4 separate regions of the Homo sapiens genome follow, and regions 1, 2 and 4 are each reported to be linked to region 3. Evidence: microRNA targets listed by miRTarBase, many of them from high-throughput screens and not tested one by one. Region 3 holds a microRNA gene; each other region holds the end of a gene's coding sequence.

The links. The annotated mature microRNA hsa-miR-1185-2-3p reads AUAUACAGGGGGAGACUCUCAU and lies in region 3 at 2,723-2,744, shown strand. An mRNA with a match to its seed (bases 2 to 7 or 8) in the 3' UTR can be bound and repressed. Matches are read on the target gene's strand: a 7mer-m8 pairs with bases 2 to 8, a 7mer-A1 pairs with bases 2 to 7 and ends in A, and an 8mer does both.
Region 1: the mRNA of IRF2BP2 is a reported target of hsa-miR-1185-2-3p. Seed matches in the 3' UTR shown: 8mer at 3,472-3,479 and 7mer-A1 at 1,652-1,658.
Region 2: miRTarBase lists DCAF12L2 as a target of hsa-miR-1185-2-3p. Seed matches in the 3' UTR shown: 7mer-m8 at 2,828-2,834.
Region 4: the mRNA of DIP2A is a reported target of hsa-miR-1185-2-3p. Seed matches in the 3' UTR shown: 7mer-m8 at 1,885-1,891.

The regions. Positions count from the first base shown.
Region 1 is chr1:234,603,540-234,607,762 of GRCh38, forward strand. It overlaps IRF2BP2 (interferon regulatory factor 2 binding protein 2), which reads right to left. Exons shown (of 2, transcript NM_182972.3): 2 at 730-4,223. The coding sequence ends at 3,598. Among named protein-coding and RNA genes, the nearest start is that of IRF2BP2, 4.5 kb to the right of the region's middle.
Region 2 is chrX:126,160,744-126,164,966 of GRCh38, forward strand. It overlaps DCAF12L2 (DDB1 and CUL4 associated factor 12 like 2), which reads right to left. Exons shown (of 1, transcript NM_001013628.3): 1 at 2,756-4,223. The coding sequence ends at 3,790. Among named protein-coding and RNA genes, the nearest start is that of DCAF12L2, 3.4 kb to the right of the region's middle.
Region 3 is chr14:101,041,528-101,045,861 of GRCh38, forward strand. MIR1185-2 (microRNA 1185-2) reads left to right here and starts at 2,671; the gene lies at 2,671-2,756. It overlaps MIR1185-1 (microRNA 1185-1), which reads left to right and starts at 1,450; the gene lies at 1,450-1,535. MIR381HG (MIR381 host gene) reads left to right here and starts at 3,630. Exons shown (of 3, transcript NR_104192.1): 1 at 3,630-3,657. RefSeq lists an enhancer at 4,238-4,334.
Region 4 is chr21:46,567,318-46,571,540 of GRCh38, reverse strand. DIP2A (disco interacting protein 2 homolog A) reads right to left here. Exons shown (of 38, transcript NM_015151.4): 38 at 1,526-4,171. The coding sequence ends at 3,919. Among named protein-coding and RNA genes, the nearest start is that of S100B, 36 kb to the left of the region's middle.

The DNA.
Region 1 (4,223 bases), not on the chromosome of region 3:
CATTCACTGTTGCTGTTTAATTTAAAACATATAGTAACTCTATGTATATCCTAGCCTCCAACTCTTTATGAGTTTCACAACTTCCTTTCATAGAGAAGTCTGCCAAGCCATTAATCAATAAAAAGAGTAAAAGCTGCAACATCTAGGAAATTTCTTATTATATGAGAGTAGCCAGTAAAATGTGTCTCAGTGCTTTCTACCTTTTATCTCTATTTATAAATTTAAGTTTCAGGATATCAATAAAGCTCATACATGGCTTTGGCTTTTTTCATTCCTAAGCTTTCCAAAGTATAAGGCTTTTTTTTTTTTTAAATCCCTTTTGTCTTTAGCGCATTTCCTATGGCCCAACGTAGCTGTTTTATTCCAAAGCTTTTCAAAGAGCAGCTCCAGGTCTTGAGAGTCTTTCCAGTGTCGTCACTATCTTCTCTTTCCAATCTACCATTGCAGAATGGCTGGTTCTGCTGCTAGTTGAAAAATAAACAAATGCTTTCTAGCCGTACTTTGTTCAGCTCTTTTATCTGTGTCCCCTATCCAGTTGCCCTTTCCGCAGTCCCTGGCACTTCTATTTTATACCATCAGTTGCCTTTTTGTTCCATGTCTTTTATCTCCTGAAGTTCAGGCAAACCCCAACCCCAAACCCACACATCCTTTAGTCACATTGCCATTAGTGATTAAAACAATAGCCATTCTAAGCTTGCTTTAGAAAATTAAAAAAGGCCTCAGAAAATGTTCAGTGCTCCCAATTTTATTTTTATTTAATGCTAAAAGTTAAAGAAAAAAAGGTACTGTAAATCTGACAAATGACAGAATTCAGGTGATATTTCCATAGCGTGATTTTAAAATATAATAATGTTGGTATCTGAGATTACACTCACTTCAGTTGACATGAGTTTCATCATATATAGAAAAAGTATCACCTTCAACTTAAAAAAAGTAAAGGTTAAAAGGTGGCACACTTTTAAAATACTTGGTGGCCAAGGAAAGGTATATAGTAAAAGTTGTAAACCATGTGTATGTTCTCATAACTTTAAATGTGAGGCCACATGAAAGACAGTACATCTGTTAAATTCTATAAATTGTTAAAAGCAAAAAAGGGAAAGCTTCAACACCCCATCCCCTAATATTTTGAGTATTAAAAGCACAGCTGAAATATTAGGATTTGAAATCTGATACTGCCCATGTACAGTAAGTAGCTTTGTGACATTTTTATCCAGCTGTGGAGAATCTCTGCACTGTCATCAGGTACAACAAAAGATCAAACCCATGTCCCGATGTTAACTTTTTAACTTAAAAGAATGCCAGAAAACCCAGATCAACACTTTCCAGCTACGAGCCGTCCACAAAGGCCACCCAAAGGCCAGTCAGACTCGTGCAGATCTTATTTTTTAATAGTAGTAACCACAATACACAGCTCTTTAAAGCTGTTCATATTCTTCCCCCATTAAACACCAGTACAGAGAAACCACAGGTTGCCCTTTCCACAGCTGGATAGACTTATCCAAAACGGCAGGATGGTTCTGTATTAATCTTTTTGGAAAGCATGTCTGTATTAAGATTGCAAAACATACAGATAGCTACCACAAATTAGGTCAAACGACTGATCAAGTTGTAACATCTGTGAGGTCAAATTCCAAAGTGCCTAGATACACATTTATACAACAGACCATAAGAGCTGAATTCTTTACAAATGTCTTTATGGGCATGTAAAATTGACTCTGCATTTCTGCATGTGTGCATTCACATAAGAGAGACCAGTCTGCACTGAGTCATATATACTCCAACTTGAAAAAGTAAGTGTAACAACTGGTTAATCATGCAAGTCTGTTTGTAATATAACAATGACTGGTAAAACATGAATTCTCGCACAGTAGTAATAGGTGCACTCATTAAAAACACTACGGAAAAACACTGTATTTGGTGCAGTATCTGATTTTCAAGTGTTAGTAACTTGACCATTAAAAAATAGTTTTGAACAATTTAAAAAGGAAAGACAAACATATAACTAAAAAAGAATCCAAAGTTGGTAAAAATCTGTATTTTCAAATGTAAATAGAAGCTAGGCTGTGAACCATACACATAAATTGTAGACCTTGAAGCCATAATTCAGCCTAATTATAAGGCCAAGTTACAAACACCTGAACGTAAGGATTTAAAATAGTGTTCCTGTCAATGTTAAATCATAACAGCACAAAAGAAAAACCAGTATCACTGTGAGACAACTATTTCTAATAATTGATGATTTATTGGTTTTAAAAAAATCATTTTACTGATGCAAAATAGTGATCAAAAGAAATTAGTTTACAAAAAGACTTCTAAAAATATTTTGAGAGGTGGGGCCTGTCTATTATATAAAACCCTTAATTTCTTTAATTTCCACTAGTTTATCATTTTTTTCCAGAACAGTATTATTCACTTGGTATTTCAAACACATGTTAAGAAGGAAATTACAGGTTTCCTCCACCCACATTTGGGCTGTCACTGATATGCCCAAGGGCAGTCCTGGCAGCACCACGCGGCTGTTACTGTCATTGTACCATACTGTATTCAGCACTCACTAGAAACAGGGTATAGGTGATAGTATCAACAGCAATAGCACTACAGGTAAATGATAAACAAAACAAAACAGAAACAAAACCAATCCCACAATCTCCAAGTTCACCTGGACTGTAACTTCTCTTGCAACTCTTTCAAAATAAAGGACAACAGCAACAACAAACAGACCTCTAGGGTGTTTAAAAAGATGAAGTGGCGCTGCAGAGCTGGGCTCTGCTCAAAGATGGCAGTGCCATCTTGTACACACCACCATCCATTATAACCGCCTTCCATCACTGGAATTGTATCTTATGTAACCAACTAGCATGCAGCATTGTAATCTTACAACTGATCACGTGGACAGTGAACAGCGGTCAACTTTGTCTTAAAAAAAAAAAAACAAAAAACCCCAAAAGACCACACAATCCTGAAAATTTCCCAGCAGCACTCTCAGTCATCAGTATCTCAGGAACTGAACTTTTGAGCAAAATAGAGATTCAAAATCCACTTTCCTACTCCTCTGAGGACAATGTTTCAGGGTAAACTGGTGGTATTTCCCAGTGGCATGCCCACTTGACAACATGCCCGTTCGATCATTTCCTTTCCTTCTCCACCACTTGGCCTCCGGCCTGAGAAAGGGGCCAGCAATAAGGAATGACAGACAGTAAGGCAATCTTACAATGTCAGAAAATGTATTTGGCTTTTTTTTTCTTTTTAAAATAAGTGCATACAAATACAGCTAGAAGCATTTCTGATTTGCCAAGTGCTCTAAAAAAGCAGCGCAAGTCACAGCCTACATAGAACGGTAACTGTCACCAGGATAATAAAGCACAAAGATATGCTAATAACGTTAACAAAAGAAAAAAATGTCTTTATAAGTACATACCTTTTGTCGTCAAAAAAAATATAGAAACACAATGTATTCAAAAAAAATCAAAATTATACAGCCATGTTTATGAAGTCTACATTTCCCTTGTCTTGGATATATATATATATGGAGATATATATACAATTCAAGCAGTTTTAATTAAGGGTAATCATTGGGTTTTTCTGAAACCGGAAAAGTCACGAGTCTCTCTCTTTTTTCACTTTCACATCTCCAGCAAGGATGGTTGCAATTTCCCCTTGCATAAAGGCCCAGGGGACATTGGAGCCCACAAGAGGGCATTTTTCCCCACTGGGACAATAGACCTCTCCACTAGCTCCCTGCTGTTTGATGCTTTGTCTGGAGCAAGGGAAGCAGAACTTGTGCGAAGGGACGGACGGGCACTGCACAAAATGGGTGTCCTCCAGCCGCTCGTGGCAGAGGGTGCAGCACAGCGGGGCACTGGTTGCCAGAGAGGAGTCCGGGAGGCTGGCAGGGTGCACTGGCTCCAGTCCTCCTGTGTTGCCTGCTCCCTGGCCCCCCACCTCTCTGGGGCCCAGCCTTCTTTGGTTCATAGAGGACGGAGAGGGCGGACTGTTGCTATTCCTCCTGGTAGTGGAGTGAACCTGGTTGGCATCTTTTGAGGCATGACTGCCCCCTGCATTGTCTGCTACTAAGATCAGGGCTGCCATGGGGGACTGGCCATTCTGGGCCGCTTCAGGCGGTGTGGTCCGGTTGGAATGAGGTGAGGCAGTGGGTGGTGGCGGAGACACAAAAGAGGATGTAGGAGTCATGGGGATCTTGAGCCCCTCTGTGGATGTGGACA
Region 2 (4,223 bases), not on the chromosome of region 3:
AAATCTGTGCTTGTAATTATTTCTTCTCTCTCACTTCTAATAATTTGCATTTGTGCTCTTTTATTGTAATCCTGTGGAAAGCAGTATCCTCCTCTGGACACCTCCTTTGCTTTTTGCAAGACTGGGAAAGTTGGCAGAGACCTACACTTGTGGTATTGAAGTGAGAACTTAAACAGGGGCTCGCAGCAGCTGCTGATGAGGTGATATTCCACTGCTGTGAGACTGTCAAGGATGCTGGTGCCAGCTGGGTGTTGGGAATACTGGATATGTCTCAGAACAGGAGAATAAGTGGTCCAGAAATAATTAACTCTGAAGCCCTGCTTTGTGAGCTAGGTCTGACTTTTCATTCTCCAAGATAAAACCAGCAGTTGAGCAATTCAAAAGCCTAATTAGTGGACCAATGTGGACAGTCTTAAGGAGTCGTAGGTAAATATTTAGGAAGATTATCTGGGAGAAAAGCTGTCCTTTACGGCTTTTAGGTGGAGACTCAAAATCGTTATAATTTTAGTATTAAAAGATATATTGTTGTCTCACGCTAAGGTCACAAAATTTGTGTAGAATAAGCCTCTATCATTCTCTACCATTTTCTTCCCCATCCCAGCTTTTTTTTTAAATTTCCTTTTATTTACTTATTTGTTTGTTTATTTATTTATTGAGACAGGGTCTCACTCTGTCACCCAGGCTGGGGTGCAGTGGCATGATCTCTACTCACTGCAACTTTAACCTCCTGGGCTCAAGTGATCCTCCCACTTCAGCCTCCCGAGGAGCTGAAACTACAGGCGCGTACCACTACACCCGGCCAAATTTTGTATTTTATGTAGAGATGAGGTTTCACCATTTTCCCCATCTTGCTCTGGAACTCCCGGGCTCGAGCAATCTGCCTACCTTAGCCTCCCAAAGTGCTAGGATTACAGGTGTGAGCCACTGAGGCAGGCTTTCTCTCTTTTCATTGTTTTAAAGATCCTTCATATGCTTTTCTCTTCTACTTTCCCCTGAAAGGACAAGATTTCCAGTGTTTCATAGCACTCACCTTCCCAGAAGTGAGAAATTGCATCCTGGGGTACACAGCCAATTCTTCACTGGGTATGTTCTCCTGATGTCACAGAGGCACCTCAAATTCAGTAAGTCCCAAGTTAAACTGATCATCCTCCCCCATACTATCTATGCCTATTTTCTTTATTTTTATTTGCTGTCAATATTCATTCACATTCAAGTCAGAGCCTGAGAGTCCACCTAATTTTTTTGGTTTTCCTCATCTTTCACATGAAATACTGTTTGTTCCTTTTATTTCCCCTCATTGTTTTGAATAACTTTCTCCCTCTCCACACTTACCCCACTATCCTAGTTCAGATTTTCGTGGTCTCCTTCTTGGATTTTCTTCAGTGACATCTCATACGTTGGGTATAACTTAAACTGGGTGCAACAGACCAGGGAAACCTACTAGGTCCAGCTAAGTATATAAGGAAAGTAGCTGTGTGTAATCCATTTCCAGGTACATGAGCCTGAATGGTGGGTACTCTCTTCCTTTAGCGTGGCAGCATTTTTACTGCTTGCCTTCATTTTCTTGTTCTTTGTTTCAGAACCCACTTGGTACTCTGACAACAAATTGAATTAACTCAGCCACAGTGGCTTAGAAAGAAAGGATCAAGATCAAGTAGATGTAAGATTGGCAAAGAGCACAGTTTGGTGACACACTGTTGGCATGGGTGTGGTAAAGCAGGTGTGCATCCATTACTTGTAGGAGGTTAAGGTGGTGAGAACTCCTTGGAAGATGATTTAGCAATGGCTATTAATATAAAATGAACTTACTCATTGAACCAGTAATTTCATTTCTCGGAATTATCCTGCAGATATATTTATGCTTGTACACAAAGATGTATACACTTAAGTAATCACTGCAGAATAGTTTACAGTAACAGAAAACCAGAACCAACATAAATGATCATCAAAGGTGTAATGAATAAGTCAAGTGTATTCCAATCACACAATAGAACAGCATGCAATAAAATTAAGTAGATAAGTATAAGAAAAAATCACTAAGATTTTGTGATTAAAAAGGCACAGATACATACAGTATGTTATTATTTGTATAAAAATTCCATACACACATACATGTGTTCTTGTATATATATAGACTAAATCTAAATATGTATATGCAAAAAATATACTAGTGCTAATCTATGGGCTGGAAACTAGAGACCCCGGGGTTTGAGATTTACTTTTAACTGTATACTTTTTATACTGTATGGTTTTTTGATCATGTGCTTGTATTAAAATTATTTTAAATTGGCATAAAACAAAACACAAATAAAGACCAAGTGGTAAGTCTTAATATGTGTAGTTCAATATATAAGAAATAGCTGCACATATAAAATGATATATATCTATGCTTTCTTCTCACATGGGAAGTAACATATACAAACAGATATACAAATATATTATATATGTAAGTAGTTATAAGTACATGTATATTTGTATAAATGAAAAATGGTTTGTTCAGTCAACTTTAAAAAACACTTAGCCATCCTAACTTACACCAAGTATATTTTCATAACGTATTCAAGATGTTGTTTAATCTTTTAACTTATAAGTTTCATTTTCAAAAAGAGATGTACAAAGTAATGTCTGCATAGCTAATGCTTCAGATTCAGCTTCTGTCCTGGAAAGTTTTGACTTTGATAAATACGTTCTCAGAAAGACAAATGAAAAAAGAAAGCATATATTTAAGTATTAAGAACTTAAGTCTGCCACTTAATTGCTAAGATGATGAACACATTTTATTTATTTTTCTGCAACACATCACATACTGGATCCAGAATTATCCATGTATACAGTAATAAAAAATCAACACCTACTCTGAGCACAACTGCCACAACTGGCTTTTCACTGTAAATAGCTACCTGAATTTAAAGAGATGTGTACCCCATATACCCCCAAAAATACCTCCCTGATTGCACTACCACATATATAGACCAGAATTGAGTAGTTCTGAAAATCTGTAGCATAGAAAAGCAGGCCATAATACAGCGGCTTTAAATAAGAACACGGAGGGCCTGAGGATAGTAAAGTTTTACTGAATAACCAAAAATGTTGATTAATAGTATGAACAACATTGTAAGATTTCTAACTAACAGAACATATTTTTAAAGCATTTTACACATCAACACTATACAAACAACAGACATTGAGTTTCCAACATCCAAATGAATCACGCCCTAGAATGGTGTGTGCCACACTCTAGAATGGTGGCAATCTAGAACCTGAACTGCATTTTGTAATTAGAGTAAGGCTATAAATGATGGGTAGTTCCTCAAAACAACCCCAAAGATGCTTTGTAGCTCACATTTCCCCAAAACACCACACATCTAACATGTGTAAAAGATCTGAACACTATTGCAATATTGATAAAACTAACGTACTGAATAGTAGTGAAGACTATGACTACATCAACCTAAAGAAGGAGGGTATGTGAATCACTGAAAGACAGAACACAATTAAGGTTTAGCCAAAACTCTTTGAATGAGAAGGCAAAAATATACTGCTGTTGGGAAACGTGAATGAGAGTTTTAAAGCCAAAGTTTTGACTGCCGAAAGGACCACTTGTGCTCTCTCGCTCCCGCTCTCTCTCTTTCTTTCTCTGCCTAATACATTAAGCACACGTAAGTTGGACTGGTTCCACCTGGAAGACAAAAGCCACACAAAGTTAAAAGCACAAATGCAGCATGAAGAAGGAAAGTCAGGCGGAACTGAAAGGTAAACCTGTGCACTTTGAGAACAAGGCGTCCATCCTTAACTCCAGAGGCCTGCGTAGTTCCCATGGAGGCCTGAAGGGAGAGGCCCCCCAGCCACAAAGAGCTTCATCTCCGGCCAGTTGTAGCAGTGGGTGTAGAGCGCATTGGGGAACTCTCCCATGCCACCAAAGTAGTTCACCCAGACGTCATCTTGGTTGAGCCAGCCTCTGCCGCAGGCAAGCTTGAGCTTCCTCCCTGCGGGCCCCGGCATGGAGTCCAGGCTGGAAGAGGCCCTCTCCTCCAGGAACTTCTGGGCGCGGATGTCATAGAAGAGCAGGGAACCATGGCCGGTGCCCACAGTGATGATGTGCTGGTAGAAGCTCAGCGACCGCACGCCTGTGCCACCCTCTCGAGAGCACAGGGGCCGGATGTTCTGCTGGCGCTGGCGCGGATCCAGGAAGGAGACGTGGGACTGAGAGCCCACAGCGTACA
Region 3 (4,334 bases):
TTGACCACAGGGCATGTGCCTCTGTCTTGCTGTTTGTGACCTGGTTCTCTGACCCTCCTCATCTCATGCTTCCTTCCAAGAACTTTCTGGAAGAGATGCTGGCTTTGGAGATGATATAGGGTTTTCTCTTCAGACCACCTGTTCTGCCTAGCAAAAAGGGCCTACCTTGGCCGGGCACGGTGGCTCACGCTTGTAACCCCAGCCCTTTGGGAGGCTGAGACGGTGGATGGCTTAAGCCCAGGAGTTCGAAACTAGCGTGGGCAACTTGGCGAAACCCCATCTCTGCAAAAAATACAAAAATTAGCTGGGTGTCATGGTGTGCGCCTGTGGTCCCAGTACTTAGGAGGTTGAGGCTGGAGGATCACTTGAGCCCGGGAGTTGGGAGGTTGTAGTGAGCCAAGATTGTGCCACTGCACTTCAGCCTGGCTGACAGAGACCCCTGTCTCAACACAATAGGTTAAAAAAAAAAGAAAAGAACAAAGGGCCTCCCTTGATGGGCCCTACTTATCACAAAGCATCCATGGGCTGCTACTCCGGCAGGTCTGCCCAGCATGATGCCAGCCTCTGAGAAGAGGTCTCGTGGTCAGTGCATCTCCCAGATACATGAAAGAATGACCGTCAGCAAAGTCAATGTCTAATGTAGATGTGGGTCATCTGGTCTACCCACTCTCCATACCTAGCCCATCCTTGGAGTGACTTTTGGACCTCACTGTCCACTTGAGGGAAGGCCAGTCCACAGGAAGGAGGCCCCAGAGCACCCAGTGTGGCTACAGGACTTGCTGCTGGGACCTCTAAGCCCCACTGCTCTCTTAGTCCATTGGTGTCCTTTAGGGATTCTTGCCAATGGAAAGACCCTTGGATTCCTGGTGTTAGCATGTGTTTATTCAGAGAGAGTTGGCCCATGAGAATCTCATTTTCCTTTGACGAATCTTGCCCTAGATGAATACTTCTGAGTAACAACTAACTGCTCAGATGGCTTTCTGAATACAATGCCAAATTCAGGAGAAGGGACACTTGTCATAGTGCTGCTTTGTGATTTGCAAACGGAGTGCGTTGGATTTCTGTTTCTCTTTTTTCTTTAATGATGCATGTGACTGCATCTTCTAACCTCCCTTAGCCAGTGTTCACCAGGAGGGCTTCCTGGAGGCAGTGGCTTTGGGCAGAGGCAGAGGTTCTTCTCCCAGGGTGTTTTTGCAGGCCCTAAAGGGATTTCAGCCATTTTACATTTACATTATTTCAAATGGTACAGGATTGCCTGTCTTTTGGTAACCAATCCTGTCGTGAAGAGATGCTGGGAAGTAAAGTCAACTGTATGGCAGGCCCCAGCTCCAGGGCCAGCCAGATGAGGCTTGTCACCTGGCCCCTCCCCCTTGGTCTCAGGCCTCGCAGGAGGAGATGTCCACTCCGGCGAAGACCCGGCATAGTCCTCACCTGCTCTTTGAGCCACTCTTTGGTACTTGAAGAGAGGATACCCTTTGTATGTTCACTTGATTAATGGCGAATATACAGGGGGAGACTCTTATTTGCGTATCAAACTCTGTCGAGGAAGACGCTCAGACCCTGCTGTCTCCAGGACAAAGCCTCGGATGTCAGCCCCTCTCAGGTACGGCTTGGCTTCCCTGTCTGGGAACGTGAGCTTGGCTGTGATCCTAGCCCTTGGGTTCTGCCTTCGCTCTCTGTGCTGGTTCTTCCTGTGGACTCCCTGGAGGCAGTGGGAGAGGAGGGTCCTTTTTGTGTGCACTGAGTTTAATGGTGGTTTGCTTTTTTTAAGGATAAATCACATGGATCTGCCTCTTCTCCATACCAAGTCATACCCAGAGGGCTTCCTGCGTCCAGCACTAACCTCGCACCTCTCCGGACACACGAATGGGTGGTGGATGGTGGAGCGCAGAGCTGATGCTGCTTCTCACCTGCTACTCCCCTGACCTGCCACTCCCTGGTGGTCTCCATCCTTGAGAGAGTGTCAGCCTTGAGGGAAGCACATGGATGTCAGGTTGTTCTAAGGCAAGTTACTGGTGGAGCTCCCTGAGCCTGCCTGTGCCCTCTGGGACTGTCGCTGGACTCCAATGGCCAGTCCTCGGAGCACATTGTCCAGTGATTGCACCTGAGTGTGCCTTGGGCAGGTGTGTCTGGTCTTCAGGACTCCTTTGTCGCTAGAGTCTGACGCTGGGGCCCTCTTTTTGTTTGTTTCGAGGTAGGTACAGGTGACACATTCTTGGATCTGGTCATCTCTAGGACAACCAGCCTCAGAGGAGAGACATTGTCTCAGCGCTCTCCAGCTCTGAGAATGCCTGCAGATGCCTTCTTCTCTGATAACTCCATGTCTTGCCGGGCTGAGCCCTCACACCCTGTGCCCCTTTGGAGAAAGGTGATGGTTCCATTGTCCATGTAGCTTGTGGGTATTTGAAGCAGGTTCACCCATGCATGCTGAGCACACTGATAGTCATGCCTACCTGTTCCCTTGTTTAGAAGCCAGTCTCGCCTGCAGGGAGTCCTGGATGTGCCACCTTTCGGGGCCAGGCCACAATGTGCAAGGTGCAGGCCCAGCTCCAGGGTCAGCCAGATGAGGCTTGTCACCGGGCCCCTCCCCCTTGGTCTCAGGCCTCGCAGGAGGAGATGTCCACTCCGGCAAAGACCCGGCATGGTCCTCACCTGCTCTTTGAGCCACCCTTTGGTACTTAAAGAGAGGATACCCTTTGTATGTTCACTTGATTAATGGCGAATATACAGGGGGAGACTCTCATTTGCGTATCAAACTGTCGGAGAAGACACTCATACCCTGCTTGTCTCCAGGACAAAGCCTCGGATGTCAGCCCCTCTCAGGTATGGCCTGGCTTCCATGTCCGGGAACGTGAGGTTGGCTGTGACGCTGCCCCTGGGTTCTGCCTTCGCCCTCTATGCTGGTTCTTCCTGTGGACTCCCTGGAAGCAGTGGGAGAGGAGGGACCTTTTTGTGTGCTCCAAGTTTAATGGTGGTTTGCTTTTTTAAGGATAAATCACACATTGATCTGCCTCTTCTTGGTACCAAGTCATACACAGAAGGCTTCCTGTTCCCAGCATCAGCCTTAGAAGGGGGACCTGGATGTTGGATCATTTCAAGGGGAACACAGACAGCAGTGATGGTGGACCACGGAGCACTGGCTCTGTCTATGCTGTTTTCGAGCCTGGTAGGCCAGCCCCAGGAGGGCTTCCTGGAGGTGGTATTGACCTTGGGGAAGGGGCTGAGGTGTGCTCATCAGCGCTTTTTTTTTTTGATGCTTGGGTGTTCATGATCCAGCTCGCAGTCCCCAGGCTGAATCTGTAAGAATGGTTTGCTTCTATTTGTCATTTGTGATTGCCCATGAAGGCAGCGCTGGGGATGAGCCGTGGGAGCTGTCAGCCCCGCACCAGGTGCGTGCATGTGGGAGGTCAGAGGGCGCCTGCTTCTGCCTCGATGTCTGTGCCCCGTCTCTGACTGCTGGCTTTCTGCTCACACCTAGGATGGCTGCCTGAGAATGGGACTCTTGTTCTGTGTTTGTGGAGACACTCCTTGGGCCGTGTGACTGCCGGCTTTTTACACCCCGACTGCCATGGGGGTCATCTGGACCCGAAGCCAGCTTCAGGAAGGACATTCGCAGCATCCTCAGCCCAAGGAAAGCGAACGTCCAGCTGAAGAGAGGTGAGCACCACGCCTGGGTAATGAGTCACATAACCTGCCACCTGGACCAGGCGGCTCCCGCTCCTCTCCCCTTCTTGAAGGAGAGACCACTGTGGGGAATGGGCTGTGGGTCTGCTTCCTCAGTTACTTGGGGGTACGTGGGGTTTACTACTGTTGACCCTGTGCTCTTTCTTAGCATGGCTTCATGGCCACGATGCCAGCCTCTGGCAGGGGTGGGGCAAGGGCTGGCATGGAGAATGACACTGGTGTCAACGGCTCTGTGAGATGGATGAAGGGATGGTGACCACAGGGCCTTTGCTTTGTCTAAGGTGTAAATTCATCCAGTGCCTGGGACCTCGGTGCTGAGTGCATCCTTAGGAAAACTTCCTGGAGAGGTGCCCACACTGGGAAGGAGATGGTGGTCCCACCCCAGGGAATTCCTATAGAAAGTGAGAAGCTGAGCTCTGCGTGTGCCCAGGAAGGCCCGTGGGGTGGATCTCCTTTTCAGGAACAAGTTCTAATCTGGAGTGATGCCTGGAAAAGAGGCTGATTCTGGTGAAGGGGCACTGGCGTCTGCCCCTTCCTGGCCCCTTTGGGATGGAGAGCTGACCTATGGGCACACAGCTGGCAGGTGGTGTTTGCCACCTGGTCTGCTGATCCCGCATCTCCCACCCCCTCCCCCGCCAGGATGAACCCCG
Region 4 (4,223 bases), not on the chromosome of region 3:
CATCCCATGTTCATGGATAGGAAGAACCAATATCGTGAAAATGGCCATACTGCCCAAAATAATTTATAAATTCAATGCTATCCCCATCAAGCTACCATTGACTTTCTTCACAGAATTAGAAAAAACTACTTTAAATTTCAATATATTGGCCCACTACCTTCTGGCCTCTAGTTTCTGATGAGCAATCTGCTGATAATCTTATTGAGCAGCAGTCCCCAACCTTTTTGGCACCAGCGACTGGTTTTGTGGAAGACAATTATTCCACAGACCAGGGGGCACAGGACGATGGTTTTGGAATGGAACTGTCCCACCTCAGATCATCAGGCATTAGATTCTTATAAGGAGTGTGCAACCTCGATCCCTGGCACGTGCAGTTAGTTCATAAGAAGGCTTGCATGCCTATGAAAATCTAATGTCACCACTGATCTGACAGGAGGCAGAGCTCAGGTGGTAATGCTCACTCACCCACCACTCACCTCTTGCTGTGTGGTCTGGTACCTAACAGACTGTTAACAGTCTGTGGCCCAGGGCTTGGGGACCTGTTACTGAGGATCCTTTGTATGTAGCAAGTTGCTTCTCCCTTGTTGCTTTCAAAATTCTCTGGCTTTGGCTTCTGAAATGTTGGTATCTGTGTGGTCTCTTTGAGTTCATCTTACTTGGAATTTGTTGAGCTACTTGGATGCTTATATTCAGGTCTTTCATCAAATTTAGGAAGTCTTCAGCCATTATTTCTTCAAGTATTCTCTCTCTCCCTCAACCCCACTTCTGGAACTGCCAACATGAAGGCCAGCACTGTGGCAGGAACCAGGCAAATACTGGAGGTTAGTTATTTCTCTGCCATGTACTCCCCATTGGTTTATGCTGATCATTCCAGTAGAACCACTTTGAAATAAATCAGCTATATTCATAATCTGAAATCAAACACAATAACCAGTTTGCATAAATATAACATCTAAAAAACCATCTGCACCAAAACAGATAGAACCAAAATACAAATAACCCACAAGAAAAAGTAAGAAGTATATGGAGGTTATAATTCTTAATAGAAAGAGACTCCTACATGTCAGTAAGAAAAAACTTGACCATAAGGACTGCCAAATCTGAACAAAATACATCAGATAAGAACTAAAAATGGCCATGAACACGAGGACATATTCAACATGACCAGACACAACACTTATTTGCCTATCAAATTGTTAAAGAGTTATTTTAATCTTGAGCACATGTCCATTGCCAACATTACTTGGCATCTGCAAAGAGGCCTTTTCCATGCTGTCATCCTGCCCTTCTGGAGGGCAGCAGGTACCCAAAGCTTCACACCTGGCATGAACTCTGACCCACTCACTCTACCTATAAGAACTGAGCCCAAGGCAGTAATTGTAATCATGGCAGTGTAAACGTGCATCTGGGCTCACTGCAGTCCTGTTGAAACAACGCTGATGTACGGCAATACAGCAAATACTACATTTACTCATGGCACACTTGTAAAATACAGCCACTGAAACATGTAGAAGAATATATGTAATAGATTTTAAAGTCTATAATTTATTAAGTACAAAAGCAAATTATTTAAAAAAGCACTTGATCCTAATTTTGTAAAAAATTTTTAAAAAGAAAAAATAAATCCCTGAGAGGGTTTATGTTACATACGAATGCTGCTGTTTACTCAGAGGTAGAATTATAAGAAATTTTAATTTTCTTTATACTTTAATGTGCTTTCTAGATTTTATGCTATAAGCATAACTGCTTTTATAGTCAGAAAAAAAGCAAAATAAGATACAACCTATTCGGGGTAATTTAAAGACCCTTTTCACACATTTCAAAATGCAGAATTACAAAGTCAATAACTTTTATTAACATAATGATATAAAAATTTTAGTGTGATATACAGAATTCCCAGAGTAATTCTAAAACATTTTAATGCACTTCTTAAAATCTTAATTTACAAGACACCTTGTCTTACCACCACTGACCTTTCAATACAAAAAGCTGACAATTTTTGTTTGCTATAAAACTACAACATTAAGATTGGAGTTAGGTAGTTTTTTTTTTTTTTTCTTTCCCTTCCCAGCCATTCTATTGTAAGGAATGTCCATTAGACTACTTCCCAAACCTCTGTATGTCAACAATAAGTTACATAGATTCTGTACATACTTACAACAGGATTATTAGAATTCCAGTATGTCACAACATACTTTACCACAGTCCAACACCATGGGGAAACAGGGCTACTATGCACAGTGCTATTTGTAGCCAGACAGGAGTAAAACATGAGAGCTGGCCCAGTTAGCCAGACTCATGTGTGGAGAATTAATAACAGCTTTGTTAGGCACTGATCCAGACTAATTCTGGAAAAACCTGGTTGTTTCTGTGAAGCATGCATGATTCACAAAATTTGCCACCCTCAATACCCCAAAAACCCAACAATTTCGTAACATACTCTTCATTAGCTATATAAAAATAATCTATGTCTTAGATTCGTGCTTGACTTCAAATTCTTAGAAGTAACTAAAGGACTTTACATTCTCTTCTTTGATTTAGGTTCTGTATAATTTTAGATCACTCAGCTTAGTCAAGTTTGAACAAAATAATAAAATGGTTTGGCCAAATTTTATAGGCACACAACTCAAAATGCAAAAAGCAGTGAAGAATGTAACCATCTCCACCTTCAATACGGGGCAATGCTGTTCCCTGCTCCCCTCAACTGTACTGCCGGTACTCACCAAACAGCACTATGGATATGAAAACCTTAGACTTTACCACAATGCTTCCAAATCTGCTGACTTGGAATAAAAATAATAAATCAGTACACTTCCACGAGAAGAATTAATATTGTAGTGTTAGGAAAACTAGCAATTTAACTAAACAGCATCAAGTTACAAACCAGGAAAGTGATTTAAAACTAAATGCTGGCTTATCTTTCTGAAACAAAGCATCTAAATTTGACAGTCCAAAATGGCACTTATTGAGTGTCCGTGACAATACATGCTGACAAGCAGCACACCTCTTTTTTGTTTTTTTAAGACGGCATCTCGTGCTGTCACCCAGGCTGGAGTGCAGTAGCGTGATCTCGGCTCACTGCAAGCTCCGCCTCCCTGGTTCATACCATTCTCCTGCCTCAGCCTCCCAAGTAGCTGGGACTACAGGCGCCCACCACCACACCCGGCTAATTTTTTGTATTTTTAGTAGAGACAGGGTTTCACCATGTTAGCCAGGATGGTCTCGGTCTCCTGACCTCGTGATCTGCTCGCCTCGGCCTCCCAAAGTGCTGGGATTACAGGTGTAAGCCACCGTGGCCAGCCAGCACACCTCTTTCAATAAAGGAACTGGCAGAGGAGGCACTGTGTGTGACCACAGTGCCCTCTGTGAGCAGGGAGGATGGGTCCAGCTTGCTTCCTTTTTCCATCAGCCTCCCTGTGAAACAGAAGTGAGGCAGCTGGTTTGTACTCTGCTATCTTCCCAGAATCAAGTTTCTCCCCGTAAATGGTCTCAAGTTTCTCCCGTAAATTCTATATATGAACTTGTCATTTGAAGTGGGAATAAATAACTGAATTTTAAAAATCAGGAACTATATTTTTAGCCTAAAGAAAGTGCAAACTTGCAGTACAGCAGAGAACAACCTCGGTGCCTGTGATTCCTCACAATGCCCATGCCAGGCCTTTCCTTTCCTTTCCTTGTCTCTCCATCTGTTAAAATACCAGCATCCGTGTTTTTGTAAATGTACTTGGCAGATTCAAAATATTTCTTTAAATAATTCAGGAAGTGCTTTCTAAAAGGAGATGCGGGGATTGTTGAGAGGGATCTGTAAGAGCACAGGAAGGGCGAGTCCCGGTGAGTGAGCTCTGCGGTGTCTTCCCACATCACACCTTGGACTGCTGGGGCTCATTCATCTCCGGCACCTGGGCCGGTGTGCTGCGCTCACATGTTGTAGGCGACATAGATGGGGTCCAGCTGGTCAGCCAGGAAGCCGTCCCGCAGGTGCATGCGCTGCTTCTCACCCCGAGAGTTGATAGGGATCACCCCTGGGTCCACGATGACCACCACTCCCACGACCAGGTAGTGCTCCTCCAGCACCACGTTGGTCACCAGGGCCACCAGGTCCAGGGCATCCTGCTCTAGCCCATCCAGCTCCACCACCACCACCAGCAGGTTGGTCCAGGTGAATACGGCACTGCAGAGAGAAGACAGACTGGGTCACATGGATACAGGCACAGGTCACAGGG